2 separate regions of the Homo sapiens genome follow, and region 2 is linked to region 1. The links come from fine-mapping of genetic effects on gene expression. Tissue or cell type: whole blood. Region 1 holds a variant in brackets; the other region holds the start of a gene. All regions are shown on one strand. Distances are between the middles of the regions.

Region 1 (8,259 bases):
TATGAACAAATCCATAGGACAACCTCTGCTTGTCAGAAGACCCGGCTCTGGAATTTAACGGACCTAGGCTTGAGTCTCAGGCGCATGCCTCAGCGTCCTTATGTTTTAAATGGAATGATAAAGCTGGCTTTGGAGGGTGGTTGAGAGGGTTCCCAACACCCTGGATGAGAGAGAAATGCTTAGCACAGGTCTGGCACACAGTAGGTGCTCAGCCCCACTTCCTTTCTTTCTCCTTCTCCTCATCTCTCCTGGTCACTGTCACCTGGCCTTCTACTACCCCCTGGACATGTTCTATAGAGAGGGGAGCACTGGGCCAGGAGCACTAGAACCCTGGGTCCCAATTCTCACTTTTCTGGACCTTGCTGTGCAATGTTGGGCAAATATCTGGCCTTCTCTGGTCTGGCCAGATCATCTCAAGAACACTTTCTCGTGCTGTGGATCCAGGTTGTGACCTCTTGGGAGAACTGGACTCAGTTTCCCCTTTCTGTGTGCTTTCTATCCTGCCTGGTTCACAGTAGGTGCTCCAGGGACAAACATGGAAATGAGATGAGTGGGTCATTAGCGATATCTGGACACCAAACTGTGCAGATCTGGTTTGGAGGCCCTGGCTGTCAGAATGGTGCTCATTCTTCTGGGAGAGCTGGGCCAGGGTGGGGTGGGGGAGGGGAGAGGCTACTGCATTTCTTATTTTTTTGAACCTCTAAGGCCTTATCCTGTTCTTGCAGCCCCAGCCTCCACTCCTAGATGACGTGGGATTAGGGGGCCAGCTCTGGCTTCAGAGACCCCTATTTCTTTTTTTTTTTGAGTCGGAGTCTCGCTCTGTTGCCCAGGCTGGGGTGCAGTGGTGCGATCTCGGCTCACTGCAAGCTCTGCCTCCCGAGTTCACGCCATCCTCCTGCCTCAGCCTCCCGAGTAGCTGGGACTACAGGTGCCCGCCACCACGCCCAGCTAATTTTTTGTATTTTTAGTAGAGACTGTTAGCCAGGATGGTCTGGATCTCCTGACCTCGTGATCCGCCCACCTCGGCCTCCCAAAGTGCTGGGATTACAGGCATGAGCCACCATGCCCGGCCCCTTCTTCTCTCGCCTAACCCACCCCCACTCCCCTCCCCCTCCCCTCCCCCCTCCCCTCCCCTTCCTTCCCTCCCTCCCTTCCTTCCCTCTTTCTCTCCCTCCCTCCCTTCCTCTCTCCCTTCCTCCTGTCTTTCTTCCTTCCTCCCTTCCTTCCCTCCCTCCTTCCTTCCTTCCTCCCTCCCTGCTCCCTCCCTTTCTTTCTTCTTCCCTCCCTTCCTTCCTCCCTCCCTTCCTTCCTCCCTTCCTTCCTCCTTCCCTCCCTGGTCTAGCAAGAGAAAAAAAAAAGGGCCCTGTACACCCACTTGCTACTTCACCCACCAACCCATCCCATCAGCAATGGGTGAGCGAGGCCAGGCCCAGTGCCAGGCAATGAGTATACAGCAGAGAACAAAACCACCCTGGTTTTGCCCTTAAGGGGCTTTGAGCCTGGTGGGGTGACCGCTATCAGCAGGCAGTGTTCAGTCCAGGCTCTGAAATTTAACAGACCTAGGCTTGAGTCTCAGGCGTATGCCTCAGCTTCCTTATGTTTTAAATGGAATGATAAAGCTGGCTTTGGAGGGTTGTTGGGAGGGTTCCCAACACCCTGGATGAGAGAGAAATGCTTAGCACAGGTCTGGCACACAGTAGGTGCCCAGCCCCACTTCCTTTGTTTCTCCTCCCCATCTCTCCTGGTCACTGTCTGTGATCCCCAGGCAGTGTTCACTCAAGATATTGTGTGATGGAGATGCACAGGCCATGGAGGAGCCCATAGAAGGTCCTAAATCAGCTCGAGGCAGCAGCTATCTGGGCAGGCTGCCTGGAGGAGGGGATGTTTAGGAAGACACCTGCAGGAGTTAGCCAGGGGAGGAAGCAAGGGATGGTAAGTGTTCCCGGCAGAGGGAACAGCATGTGCAATCCTCTGGGGTGACAGCAGCACTCTCAGGAACTGAAAGGGGCTCAAAAATGGCTGGAAATGGAAAACCAATAAGACTACCACCATCAACAATCATGGTGGCCTTCTCGATGTGCCCAGCTGCCTCCTGCATGATCTCACTAAGCCCCTCCGGAAATCCACTCCTGTTTTACAGACCAGGAAGCAGAGGCCTGGAGATTCAGAGACTCACCTAGGCCCCGCAGTGTGTATGGGGCCCAGGGCGGAGCTGGGGTTGGATCCAGGCTGCAGAAGCTCAGCCTCCTCCCCAGGACAAACAGCCAGGCTCCGGTGGGGCAAGAGAGGCAGGGTCCTGGGGAAAACTTCCTCCCAGAGCTCCCCCGGGCCAGGCCTGGAGGCCCCGGGGAGGCCCTGCGGGTGGGGGCGGGGCGTGGGAAGGCTGTAAACTGGCTTGGGGCGGTAGGGCTTTCCTGTCGCTGCCGGTGGCCCCCGCCTTTGTCCTCATGTGTCACTGAGGAATGCAGCTACAGTCCAGATAAAGGCAGCTTTGTTTGGAGACCTCAGGAGGGGGAAGGGGGAAGGGGGAAGGTGGGGAAGGGGCAGAAAGAAGCAGGCTGGGGAAGGGGAGGGGTTACCATCACCTCCTGGCTGATCCCAACCCCCTGGCTCTGGGCAGGAAGCACCTATGCCCCCGTGGACACCCACATCCTCTGCCATCCCCTTAAGGCACTTCCTGACTTTGGGCAAGCAGCTCCCTCCTCTCTGAGCCTCAGTTTCCTCATTTGGATGATGGGGATCATCTGTCAACCTCTATGGATAGTTTGGAGGTTCCAGCCAAGTAAGTCATATGGTTGATTTGACTTGCAAGGCATATTGATGACTAAGAAAAAGACAGCCCAGAGAGGTCAAGTGACTTGCCCAAGGTCCACACAGCTTGACCTTGGAAGGAGTGATGCAGTCGGGTGTTTGCCAAGCATTGAGGGGGTGGGGCAGAACGAGGCTGGGATCCCAGGCTGCGCCCTTTGATGTGGCAAGCAAGAATGACAGGTGGTCCCTTGAATGTATGCACTTGCTCATGGAAGCCTCACCAGGGTGGGCGTTGAGTTTGCCCTTGGTCACTACTGTCCCCATGCCCCTCGGTGCCTGGCACAGGTAGGCAGGAATGCTCAATGATTTAAACCCACAGCCTCTGGGGCCAGGCGGCTACCACCTGGGGCTGTGTGATCTTGGGCTAGTCCTGATCCTCTCCATGTCTCAGTTTGCCCCTCTGTAAAACGGATCTAATATGAGGACTCCCCTCACGTGCACAGGCCGTGGAGGAGCCCATAGAAGGTCCCTAAATCAGCCTGAGGCAGCAGCTATCTGGGCAGACTGCCTGGAGGAGGGGATGGGCAAGTTCAAGGAGATGATCTGCACAGAGCCTGGCATCGGTTATTCGGATTAGTGGGACAATGGCTATCTGCTTGCTGGCTGCACAGAGGATTTTCCCAAGGTCATGGCCGAGGGTGCGCTGGGATCAGCCCAGGCTCCTCTGGGCTGTTTCTGCCCAGGAAGGAAGGGTGTGAGTCCTGCAGTGCAGGGGTGAGGCGGTTGAGTGCAGGAGGAGTAGGCATCATGTGCCACCCAGCTCCAGGCCGGGCTCTGCCCTTTTGAGAGGAGGTGTCATGTGGGTCTGGAGCTAAGGGACGTGGCCCCCTGGCCCCTCCTCACAGTGACGGATGTGGACAGACAGATGGTCTAGGGCTGGGCACGCTTAGTCATGGCCCA[G/A]ATATAACCTGGGCCCCATGGGGCGGCTCCCTCTGTCTCACTGTCTCACAGCAGCTGCAGCCAATCCCAGTGGGTCTGAGGCCTCACTTTGCCTACTGAGTGGGTCTCAGCTCACTCTCTTTGGATGCAAGAGGAAATGGAAGCCCAGAGAGGGGAAGTGACCCACTCAAAGCTGCACAGCAAGCGAGGGACAAAATCATCTGGTCACTCACTGACTTGGCAAATATTTCTGGACTCTGAAGAGTGGACTAAGTCCATCAGGGAAGAACATACCTAGAGAAAGCACTGACTTGGACAAAGGTACAGAGGAGAAGTTCTGTGATGGTTAAGGGTGTGGGTACCAGTCTGCTGGGATCCAAGCCCTCTCTGGCACTTGCTGTGTGACTTAGAGCAAGTGAATCAACTACTCTGTGCCTCTGTTTCCTCACCTGTAAGTTGAAGATATTCACAGTGTTTATGTCATAGGGGTCTTATGAGGATGAAATGAGTTCATTCATGCAAGATGCTTAGCATGGGTCCTGGCACACAGTAGGTGCTCAATAAACAGGAGCTGTTAGGAAGGCATGGGGAATGAAGGACATGTGGAACATGGGAACCACCAGCCAGTGGTTGGTAGGGAATGTCTAGAGCCCAGAGTGGGGTGTTGTGGCCCCATGTGGAAGCTTGGGGAACCAGGGCTTAGCCTTGTAAAGAGAGTGGGTGGGGGCAGGGCAGGGTAAAGGCTGGGAGGTTCTGGCAGGAGGCAGGAATTCTAGGTGAGCAATACTGGGGCGATGAAACTAGAGCAGAAATGGAGGCAGGGACGAGAAGGAGGTGGAAAGGAGGGGCTTGGAACCTGTCTAAATGTGGCAGGAAGAGGAGGGGTGTCATCCAGGAGAACCGTCCCGGGTTCCAGTGGAGGAGAGGAACCTACAAAGGGAGAGATGGAGCCCCTGACTGGTGGGGCCAGCCACTCTCTGAGAGTCTCTGAGGTGCCCAGCCTGGCCCAGGAGGTATCATCATGCTTAGGGTGGCAACAAAATTTGCAGGCTGCCGTGTGAAACAAAACTGCAGTCCTCCTTGTTTAAAAGGCAGGAAAAATGTACAGTAAAGGTACTAAAATAGGAAATGTTTGCCCTTCTTCCGTGAGTCTCTTCTGCTCACCTGCATGCTTCACTGCCCCACTGGGCTTCACTTACAAAACATAGATAGGTGCAGAAATTAAGAATTTCAAGATGGTGGCCGGGCATGATGGCTCACATCTGTAAACCCAGCACTTTGGGAGGCTGAGGTGGGCAGATCACATGAGGTCAGGAGTTCAAGACCAGCCTGGCCAACATGGCGAAACCTTGTCTCTACTAAAAATACAAAAATTAGCTGGGTGTGGTGGCGCATGCCTGTAATCCCAGCTACTTGGGAGGCTGAGGCAGGAGAATCACTTGAACCTGCGAGGCAGAAGTTGCAGTGAGCCGAGATCACGCCACTGTACTCTAGCTTGGGCAACAGAGGAAGACTCTGCCACACACACACACACACACACACACACACACACACACACACACACAAAGAATTTCAAGACGGTAACAGCAAAACATAAACCCAGCTTGGAGCCTTTCTGAGCGCCGGGCTCTGTGCAACTGCAGAGATCTCATGGCCGTAAAGTTGGCCCTGATTCATGCCCATTCTGCAGAGGAGAAAGCTGAAGCTCAGAGAAGTGAAATATCCTGGTATTCTCACTCCAATTCCAGAACCCCCTATATTCTGCACCCCCTTCCAATGCTTGCTCATGTCTAATTGTTATTCACCAATCTCCAGAGAAGGGTTCGAAGCAATTGATGGTAAAATGCAGGAGCTGTTAACACAGGTGCAGTGGAAGGCACACCATGACCCTGAGGGAGGACGCCGGCCTGGGAGCTGTGTGACCTTGGATGGGCCGTGCAAACTCTCTGTGCCCACAGTCCCTCTGCAGAGACTGGTTCAGAACTCCTGTTTCCCCAGCCCCCAAGCCTTGCCTCCCTTCCTGACCCATATTCCCCTTGGTGTCTGAGGCTTGAAGCGGTTATAAAAAATAAAACCACAGTCCCCTGATGTGCTTTCTGGCTTCTCAGGCCTTATTTTTTTTGGCCGCTAAGGAGACTAATAAATGGCTTGCCACTTGACGTAATCATTAAGGGCTCCACTGAGCTGTGGGCAGTGTTTTCTCTCCTCCTTGGCCGGGCCTGGGGCGCACAGCCACCGAGGGTGGCAGTGATGGATGGTGTCATCATGGGGCTTGCCCGGGGGAAGTGCTGGTGGTGGTCGGCCATGGCTCTCTCTCCTGCAGGCTCCTGGGCTATTCATTATGCGAAGGAGGAGCTGAAGCGTGGGGGTGACGGCTGGCTTCCAGAAGGAGCATGGACTGGAATTCCAGGCGGAGTGTGGGCCAGGGTGTATATAAAGATTAGTGTTCGGGTGCAAAGAGTCAATTGATGAGTGGCCAATAAACAGAGGGAAGGAAAGCAGGGTATAATCCAATAATATACATTAAAACATTTTCTGAAGTTAGAAAATTGGTAAAAACTTTAAAAATAGAATTAAAAAATTAAAAATTAAAAAATTACGTGATTGTTTGCAAAAATGTTCTTAATTTGCCTCCCTTCTCTGTATCTGTATCCTTTGCAATGTGGCTTTGCAGTTCCTCCCATCAAGAGATAGAGTCTGTTTCCCACTCCTTGAATCAAGCCTCAGTCATGTGACATGTTTTGGCCAATAGAATGTGGTGGATGTGATGATGTGATTCTGTACCTGTTCTGAACCTCGGCCATAAGGGACTTGCAGCTTCGATTTGCTAACCTGAAATTCTGCTGCTGCCATGGAACAAGCCTGGGCTAGCTTGGGGGAGGAGGAGAGACCATGTGGAGTAGAGCCAAGCTCTGGACATTTGAGAGAGCCCGGTAATAATCAGCAAAATCAGCCAGTGATGCACAAGTAGGCTGATTGAGATCAGAAGAACCAGCTGACTGACCTGTGGATGCATGAGCAATAATAAATGCTTACTATTTTAAGCCATTGAGTTTGGTAATGGTTTGTTACACAGCAATAGCTGACTGATACAAATCATAATGCCCAGTATTGGTGATGGTGTGGGGAAATAGGCTTTCTCACACATAAGTAGCAGAACAGTTTGCTAAAATTTTGCATATCCATTGAAGCAACAACAACAACAACAAAAAATGAAAGGGTTATTATGGAGATTCTTTTTTTTTTTTTTTTTAAGAGACAGGATTTCATTTTGTCACTCAGGCTGGAGCTCAGTGGTGCAATCATAGCTCACTGCAGCCCCAAACTCTCGGGCTCAAGTGATCCTCCCACCTCAGCTTCCTGAGTAGCTGGTATTACAGATGTGTGCCACCAAGCCTGGCTACTTTTTCTTTAATTTTTTGTAGAGATGGGGTCTACCTATGTGGTCCAGGCTAATCTCGAACTCCTGGCCTCAAGCAATCCTCCCGCCTTGGCCTCCCAAAGTGCTGAGATTCCAGGTGTGAGCCACTGCTTGGAGATTCAATGCCTGGGCCAAATGCCTAGCATAACACTTAACACTTAAAAAATGCCCAACATGTCTTGGTCCCTTCTCTGTGGGCATATCACAAAGGGCAACAACATTTGGAAAGCTTATTCATAGTCTCTGTTTTGGGGATGGATTCCTTTAGAAATCCTAAAGAATTTGTTTCTTATGGACAAAGATTTTATCAACGAGGATGTCATGACAGCATTGATTATAGCAGATCAGTAGAAACAAACAACCTGACCAATGCTGTTACAACACTAGTAATAACCATTGTTACTTATTTTGCTGTTTTGTTTTTGCTTATTACCACTTATTTTTACTTACATTGCTTGAATCAATTAAGGTCTAGCTACAGGCTGAAATTCAGTTCAGCCATAAAATTAGGTCTTAGAAGAGGACTTATAGACATAGGGAAATACACTTTCTTACATATAACCAGCAGAGGGGCAGTTTGCTAAAACTTTGCATTTCCATTGAAGTAACAAAAAGATGGAAAGGTCTTTATAGGTTCAAGGTAATATTATCATTTTGTGGGTCAAATGTTCAGGCTGTTAAATGAGAATAAAACCAGATTACAAAATAGAATTACATTGTGATCTCCATATACCTGAAAAATTGTTGTTTTACATCTGTCTCTTTCTTTCTTTAAATCTGTGCAGAAAAAAAATATCTGGAAGAGAGTAATCTATTATAAGATGTTGTCTGGGTTTGTCCCTGATGTTGGGCTACAAGTCTCTTTTTGGTCTTCATCTTAGTGCATTTATTTTAAGCTTCTTCTGTGCCAGATGCATACATTTGGAGTCTCTTTTACTCCTTACAATGAATCTGTGATGTGAGTACTAGGACTGTCCCCATTTCACAGATGACGACATTAAGGGTTTGAGAAGCACCTTGCCTGATGTTCCACAGCTAGTAATATAGGCAAATACCTACATTGCCAGATTGTCTACAATATGCATTTACTGTCTTGATAAAATTAGAAAAAAAACCCTGAAGTTAATTTTTAACAAAAGAAAGACGGA
Region 2 (8,000 bases), 130 kb before region 1:
GTGCTGACATCCCCACACTATGGAGGGGTGTGTGTGTGAGTACATGGATGCTGACATCCACACACTATGGAGGGGTGTGTGTGTGTGTGTGTGCTGACATAGCCACACGCTATGGAGGTGTATATGTGTGTGTGTGTGTGTGTGCTGACATAGCCACACACTATGGAGGTGTATGTGTGTGTGTGTGTGTGTGTGCTGACATCCACACACTATGGAGGTGTACGTGTGTGTGAGTGTGTTGACAGCTACACACTATGGAGATGTATGTGTGAGTGTGTGTATAAGTACATGGATGCTGACATCCACATACTATGGCGGGGTGTGTATGTGCTAACATAGCCACACGCTATGGAGGTGTATATGTGTGTGTGTGCTGACATCCACACACTATGGAGGGGTGTGTGTGTGTGTGTGAGTACGTGTATGCTGATATTGCTCTGTGTGTGCATGTGAGTGCATGTGTTTGCTGACACAGCCACACACTATGGAGGTAAGTGTGTACATGTGTCTGTGCTGGTGGTGTTGGGGGCCAACGGGGCAGGCACGAAGGCTGTGTGTCTCCTGGGTGACGGGTATTGGGTGTGGGTTGCTTTGTGTTTCTATAGAGTGAGAGTTCACTGGTGGGCTGCAGGCTGAGGCTCCTGGGCTAGCTGAGGTGTGCCAGGCTCTCCATATCAGCGGTGAGTGTTCTGGGGGCCATCCCAGGCAGTTCCCCACTTGTCACCAGCTTAAAACATCCCTCTCCAGCTCTGGGGCCCCATCCAGCTGTGTCTCCTCCTTCCCTTGCCCAGAGGGCCTCCTCTGGCCGTTGCCAGCACACTCAGTGCCCCCGGAGGGGGACCTGGGGAGGGAGGAGGATGGAGAAAGCCCTGGCGGGTGGAGGGCCCTGAGGCTCCTACTGCTCCCGGCTCTGCGCCTGCGGGGACTTTGAATTCATCTGAGCGCTAGGGGGCAATGTGTCTGTTCCAAAGAAACACTGCGGGACCTTGCGGGCGAAAGCACACACAGGCACACGCAGGGGTGCCCACACTGTGGAGGCGCACACGCCGGCGCATACACGGGCACAGATGGGCACAGGCTGTGAGGCACACGCCCTCACACTCGCAGAAAAAACAGATACACTGGAGCAGAGATACAGGCATGCAAGGGGTGAGGCAGCTGCACACACACAGGTACAAACGCAGTGGCTCACACACACAGAAATGCGGGGTTGGGGGACAGACAGAGAACATGCACCAAGACCCCCAAAGATCCATGCACGAACGCCGACGCAGGCATGGACAGAAACACACGCAGATGCCCCGCCACCCGCATACAAGCAAAGGCACAAAATGCAGACGTGTGCCACACACCCGCACAACATTTGCAGTGTTAAAGAAAGGTGACCGAGACACACATCCTGAACAGAAACTTCACCAGGTCCAAACACTCCCTTCTTTCAGCCACTCACACACCTTGTGGAGCTAACTCTTGGAAACAGCCCCAGAAAAATACTCCCACACCCCCCCTCCCTGGAGCACACGGAATTATTCCACAGGAAACCTGCCCAGGTGTGCTGGAGACCCCCACCCAGCCCTGTGTGAAGTCATGCCTCAGCTCTGCAGACGCCCCCATCCGGGTCTCCCCAGACGACAGGCCTGTGAGCCATTCTTCCCACTCTCCTGGCCCACCCCCAGGCTCCAGACAGGTCCCCACTTTTCCCTATTTCCTCCAGACACAGAAACACAGGCGGCTCATAGGTGCCTCAGGAGACACCCATAGTCGAGAGCAGACTGAGTGTGTGACCCAGTATCTTGGACTATGCCCAGGCCTTTGCCCATGTGGGGGCCTCTTCCTCACAACCAGGTTTTCCTATTGCCTCCCGCTTTTTGTCCAGGAGGTTCAAGATCCCCCCTGCTCTGTCTCGGGAGCCCCAGAGCCCCAGGGTCCTAGGCCCCGGGGCGGGCGGGGGGGGGGTGTCACTGGAGGGCCTACCCAAGCCTTTATTTCTTTGTGCCTAAATCAGCAAAGCCTCAGTCTTTTCTCTGGCTCTCACTTCCCTGTCACTTTGCTAAGTAATAATTTCCATGTCCAATTCCATTTCTTTTCTAGTTCTGAAACCTCTAAGCTATCAGCAAGAGGATAGTTCACATGAAAACTAATTACACAAAATCAATATTTAATCACAGACCAACAACCTGATCCTGCAGAAAAATCCTTTAAAAACTCCACCGCCCTGTACAAATACTTATTCCCTATGCTTATTTATGGACCCCATTTTTGATGGGGGTAATTTTCATTTTTAATTTCAAAAAAGAAAAAATATATATGTCTGTAAACTTCCACAACAGGAAGGCCCCGGGAAAGGTCTTGGATCTGAGCTTGCTCTGGCTGAGTTTTAAAGTTGTTGTTTTTTCTTGTTTGTTTATTTTTAATTAAAATTTTTTTTGGGCGGGGGGCAATTTCTTAGGAATTCTGCCGCTACCCCAAAGTTGAGCCCATTTCCCCCCACCCCCGGCATGTCGGTTCTGGCATACTTAGCACTGCCTTCCTAGCCGCAACTCAGGGGAGCAATGAATCTGCGCGTACGACATGGTAACTTTTTAACTCCTGCCCGCGACGGTGGAGTGCTTAATCTAAGGTTTTTAAATAAAAAGGGCTCAGGGGTTGGTTTTATTATAACGTTTATTTCATTTCAGATTTCATGCGTAATTTAGCAAACGCTAGACAGACTCGGGCGATAAACACTTTCTTTTGTGGGGGGGGAAAGGCATTTTCATACACCACGCTTAATTTTATTTAGATTTAATAGCGATATCAGGGGCACTTCAAAGAAAGTTCTTTTTTCGCCCTTCTCCTAAGAATGCGAATCTGCTAGCAAAATCGCCTCGTGCTATTTTATGGCAAGGAAAATTAAAGGCCTTCTCCCCCCTCCTTCCCTACACACACTTTAGGGAGGAACACACACACACACACACACGCATGCACAAACACACGCACGCAGGCGCGAGCACACGCACACAGGCGCACAGAATAAACACCTCTATCCTCCATCACCTCTAACTTCCAACTTCTAATTGCAAGATAGATTTCAGCCTCTGTGGGGATCAGGACGATCTAAACATTTTAACTAAGATTATTGGGATAAATATTTCATAAAGAGCAGGGCAGATATTAAATTACTCCTATTGATTTTAGTATCACAGCCCAATTCCATTCCTCGGCCTCTTCAGTTTAATTGATCTCTTAAGGAGGCCAACTTCGCACCCGCAGAGGGTCTGGGTCTTGGACCGGGTGGCCCAGGGCAAGGTGTGCGGCCCGGCGGGTGCGCCCTCTTCGTGCGTGTCTTCTCGGGGTTCCCAGCCGCCTCGCAAGTCGCTCCGGTTACTGGGCTCAACCGATGTGCTCCCCCATAAAGTGGCTGAGTGACTGTGACTCCTTGGAGCCCACGCCGGCCGGTGAGAACCGGGAACCCCAGGCAGTGGGGAAGGGGAACAATTGTGAACGCCCTAGTGACGGAGGAGTGAGCAAGCGCCCAGGTCTCTCGAGGAGAACCCTAACTTCGAGGTTCCCCGTCTGCTTTACCCTCCAAGAAAATCCCAGGGCCGGCTAACTTGGGCGCCGCTAGCGGAGAACGGAGTGTTCACCCCGGAGCCGAAGTGCAGTAGACACTTAGCGACTTTCCGTGGCGAGTCTAGGGTCTTTGCCTGGCGACCTCATTGTCTGAGCGCCCCGTACCGCTCACCGCCCACCTCCCCGCCCCCTGCCCACCCGGTGGGTCTCGCTCCAGTTGGGGGTGGGGAGTTGGGAACAGTGTGAATGGGAAGGGGGTGAACAAAGCCAAGCTCCCGCCATTCTCCTCCGCCTGCACCCTCTCCAGCTCGATGCGCCCGGAGGCCGGGGCGCGCCCCCAGCGCACTGACGCCGGACCCCGAGGAGAGGCGGGCGCAGGGGACCCCAGAGCTGGGGTAGTGCGGGTTCGTGGCGGGGGCTTCGGCAGCCAGGACCCCGGACCACCTTAAGAGCGAGCCCCGCCCCGAGCCCGGAACTTGGGCGGCGCTGATTGGTGCAAATGTAATGGCTGAAATTGATTGCTGAAATGCAAAACTTGTTGCTGCTTCTCCCGGCGCTGGGCGAGAGGCAGACACAGAGAGGGGAGCCGAGACCCTCGGAACGCCCCACGCAGAGCCCCCCCGCTAGTCGGGAGAGGGGTGCGCAGACCCCCCAGAGCTGCCCCCGCGCCCCCCTCCCCCCATTCCGGGCTCTGAGAGCGCAGCGGGAACGCCTTAGCCTGCTCGCCCGGCGTGGCCCCCCGACCCGCGTACGCCCCCCTCCCTCAGGTCCGAGAGGGACTCGCGAAGCACCTCAGCGCGGAGGCAGGGAACCGGAGCCTTGGAGCGACCCAACCCCTCGTCTCGCTGCCCTCCCGCGCCTGCAACGGTGCGCGGAGACTCCGGCGAACTCAGACACCCAACGGCGGAGAACAGAAGCGGCAGGCGGCGGACGTGGCCGCGAAGCTGCGCGCCGAACGCAGCGCACCCGCTGCCGAGCAGAGGAGCCGCGCCTTTCCCCGACCCTCGGCTCCAGCCCCCGGCGCCTGCCGCCTCGCAGCCCCTCTGCGTCCTCGGCTCGGGGGCCGGCACCGGCGATGCCGAGCGGAGCCTCCAGTCCTCCGACCCGCTGAAGAAGCAGCAGCCGCTCGCCCGGAGCCTACGGGGATTGTGCGAGCGGATCGTGCTCGGTGGAGGCTCGGGCTGCGGGGCGCGGGGACTCCGGGGGGCGGGGGGAGGGACCGCTCTGTCGGTGCCCGGCGCCAGCCGCGGCTTTGAAGGGTCTCCCTCCCCTGCCCTTAGCAGCTCTGCCACGGACTCCGGGAGGCTGCGGGCGGCGTCCTGAGGGCTCCCCAGCAGACCCAATCGGACTTGAGAAGGTGATCGCTCTGCTCTCCCAACCCCCTTCCCTCCCCATTCCCCCCACTTAACTTTTTGTCTCCGTTCATCCGCGGCTTCGTCCCCTCCCCGCAGACCCACCCGCGGCTGTGACAACCGCCCGGGGCATGGGCCCCCCAACACGGCTCCTAGAGGCCCCGCGGCCTCGCAAGATGTGAGAGGCCCTCCCCGGGCAGAATCGGAGCTTCAGGAGAGGAGCTAATACCCCGCCCCCCGTCCCTCACATCAGGCGGGGTGGAGGTGCGCGCTGAGCCCCCGCGGTGCTGAGCGTCCCGGAGCGCCCAATCCTGGGCTGGAACGAGTAGCTGGCCGGAGGCGCGCCGCGGAGAGCCGGCTGTCATGCCCTATTGATCCCCCTCTGCCCCCCGCCAAGTATGTTTGGGCTGGACCAATTCGAGCCCCAGGTCAACAGCAGGAACGCTGGCCAGGGCGAGAGGAACTTTAACGAGACCGGACTGAGCATGAACACCCACTTTAAGGCCCCGGCTTTCCACACTGGGGGGCCCCCTGGCCCTGTGGATCCTGCTATGAGCGCGCTGGGCGAACCCCCGATCTTGGGCATGAACATGGAGCCCTACGGCTTCCACGCGCGCGGCCACTCGGAGTTGCACGCAGGGGGGCTGCAAGCGCAGCCTGTGCACGGCTTCTTTGGCGGCCAGCAGCCTCACCACGGCCACCCGGGAAGTCATCATCCCCACCAGCATCACCCCCACTTTGGGGGCAACTTCGGTGGCCCGGACCCCGGGGCCTCGTGCCTGCACGGGGGTCGCCTGCTCGGCTACGGCGGCGCAGCCGGAGGCCTGGGCAGCCAGCCGCCCTTCGCCGAGGGCTATGAGCACATGGCGGAGAGCCAGGGGCCTGAGAGCTTCGGCCCGCAGCGACCGGGGAACCTCCCGGACTTCCACAGTTCAGGTGCCTCCAGCCACGCCGTGCCGGCCCCATGCCTGCCGCTGGACCAGAGCCCTAACCGAGCCGCCTCCTTCCACGGCCTGCCGTCCTCCAGCGGCTCCGATTCCCACAGTCTGGAGCCACGGAGGGTGACGAACCAAGGAGCCGTCGACTCGCTGGAATACAATTACCCGGGCGAGGCGCCCTCGGGACATTTTGACATGTTTTCGCCCTCTGACTCCGAAGGGCAGCTGCCTCATTATGCAGCGGGTCGCCAGGTTCCTGGGGGCGCTTTCCCGGGCGCCTCGGCCATGCCCAGAGCTGCGGGCATGGTGGGCTTGTCCAAAATGCACGCCCAGCCACCGCAGCAGCAGCCCCAGCAGCAGCAGCAGCCCCAGCAGCAGCAGCAGCAGCATGGTGTGTTCTTTGAGAGGTTCAGTGGGGCCAGAAAGATGCCTGTGGGTCTGGAGCCCTCAGTGGGCTCCAGGCACCCGTTAATGCAGCCTCCCCAGCAGGCCCCGCCACCCCCTCAGCAGCAGCCCCCGCAGCAGCCGCCACAGCAGCAGCCGCCGCCGCCACCCGGGCTTCTAGTCCGACAAAATTCGTGCCCGCCTGCGCTCCCTCGGCCCCAGCAGGGCGAGGCGGGCACGCCCAGCGGCGGCCTGCAGGACGGAGGCCCCATGCTGCCCAGCCAGCACGCGCAATTCGAGTATCCCATCCACCGGCTGGAGAACCGGAGCATGCACCCTTATTCCGAGCCTGTTTTCAGCATGCAGCATCCTCCTCCGCAGCAGGCGCCCAACCAGCGGCTGCAGCATTTCGACGCGCCCCCCTACATGAACGTGGCCAAGAGGCCGCGCTTCGACTTTCCGGGCAGCGCGGGAGTGGACCGCTGCGCTTCGTGGAACGGCAGCATGCACAACGGCGCTCTGGATAATCACCTCTCCCCTTCCGCCTACCCAGGCCTACCCGGCGAGTTCACACCGCCTGTGCCCGACAGCTTCCCTTCGGGGCCGCCCCTGCAGCATCCGGCCCCGGACCACCAGTCCCTGCAACAGCAGCAGCAGCAGCAGCAGCAGCAGCAACAGCAGCAGCAGCAGCAGCAACAGCAACAGCAACAGCAGCAGCAGCAGCAGCGCCAAAACGCGGCCCTCATGATTAAGCAGATGGCGTCGCGGAATCAGCAGCAGCGGCTGCGCCAGCCCAACCTGGCTCAGCTAGGCCACCCCGGGGACGTGGGCCAGGGCGGCCTGGTGCATGGCGGCCCGGTGGGCGGCTTGGCCCAGCCGAACTTTGAGCGCGAAGGCGGCAGCACGGGCGCCGGGCGTCTGGGCACCTTCGAGCAGCAGGCGCCGCACTTGGCGCAAGAGAGCGCGTGGTTCTCAGGTCCGCATCCGCCGCCCGGAGACCTGCTGCCCCGTAGGATGGGCGGCTCGGGTCTGCCCGCTGACTGTGGCCCGCACGACCCCAGCCTGGCGCCCCCTCCTCCGCCTGGTGGCTCGGGGGTGCTGTTCCGGGGCCCTCTGCAGGAGCCGATGAGGATGCCCGGAGAGGGCCACGTGCCCGCGCTGCCTTCACCGGGCCTGCAGTTCGGGGGCAGTCTGGGAGGCCTGGGTCAGCTGCAGTCGCCCGGGGCGGGCGTGGGGCTCCCCAGCGCTGCTTCGGAGCGCCGGCCCCCGCCGCCGGACTTTGCTACGTCTGCGCTCGGGGGCCAGCCGGGCTTTCCGTTTGGTGCAGCCGGCCGGCAGTCCACGCCGCACAGCGGTCCAGGCGTGAACTCGCCCCCCAGCGCGGGAGGGGGCGGTGGCAGCTCTGGTGGCGGCGGTGGCGGGGGTGCCTACCCGCCGCAGCCTGATTTCCAGCCCAGCCAGCGCACCTCGGCCAGTAAATTGGGCGCGCTCTCGCTGGGCTCCTTCAACAAGCCCAGCTCCAAGGACAACCTGTTCGGCCAGAGCTGCCTGGCTGCGCTCTCCACCGCTTGCCAGAACATGATCGCCAGCCTCGGGGCCCCCAACCTCAACGTGACCTTCAACAAGAAGAACCCGCCAGAGGGCAAGAGGAAACTGAGCCAGAACGAGACCGACGGCGCGGCAGTGGCCGGCAACCCGGGCTCGGATTACTTCCCAGGAGGGACTGCTCCTGGGGCCCCAGGACCCGGAGGCCCGTCCGGGACCAGTAGCAGCG

The links. PIP is the estimated chance that this variant, and not a neighbour inherited with it, causes the effect.
Region 2: MN1 starts here. The variant in region 1 is fine-mapped to the expression of MN1 in whole blood (TOPMed, PIP above 0.99). The same link has a PIP of 0.9 or more in blood mononuclear cells and monocytes.

Annotation. Positions count from the first base shown.
Region 1 is chr22:27,664,995-27,673,253 of GRCh38, reverse strand. No RefSeq gene overlaps it. Among named protein-coding and RNA genes, the nearest start is that of CPMER, 46 kb to the left of the region's middle. RefSeq lists enhancers at 3,528-3,822, 3,628-3,922, 5,299-5,798. The variant G/A (reference allele first, on the strand shown) is at 3,712.
Region 2 is chr22:27,797,846-27,805,845 of GRCh38, reverse strand. It overlaps MN1 (MN1 proto-oncogene, transcriptional regulator), which reads left to right and starts at 4,090. Exons shown (of 2, transcript NM_002430.3): 1 at 4,090-8,000. The coding sequence starts at 5,303. RefSeq lists enhancers at 553-1,116, 1,117-1,681, 6,024-6,569, 6,570-7,116.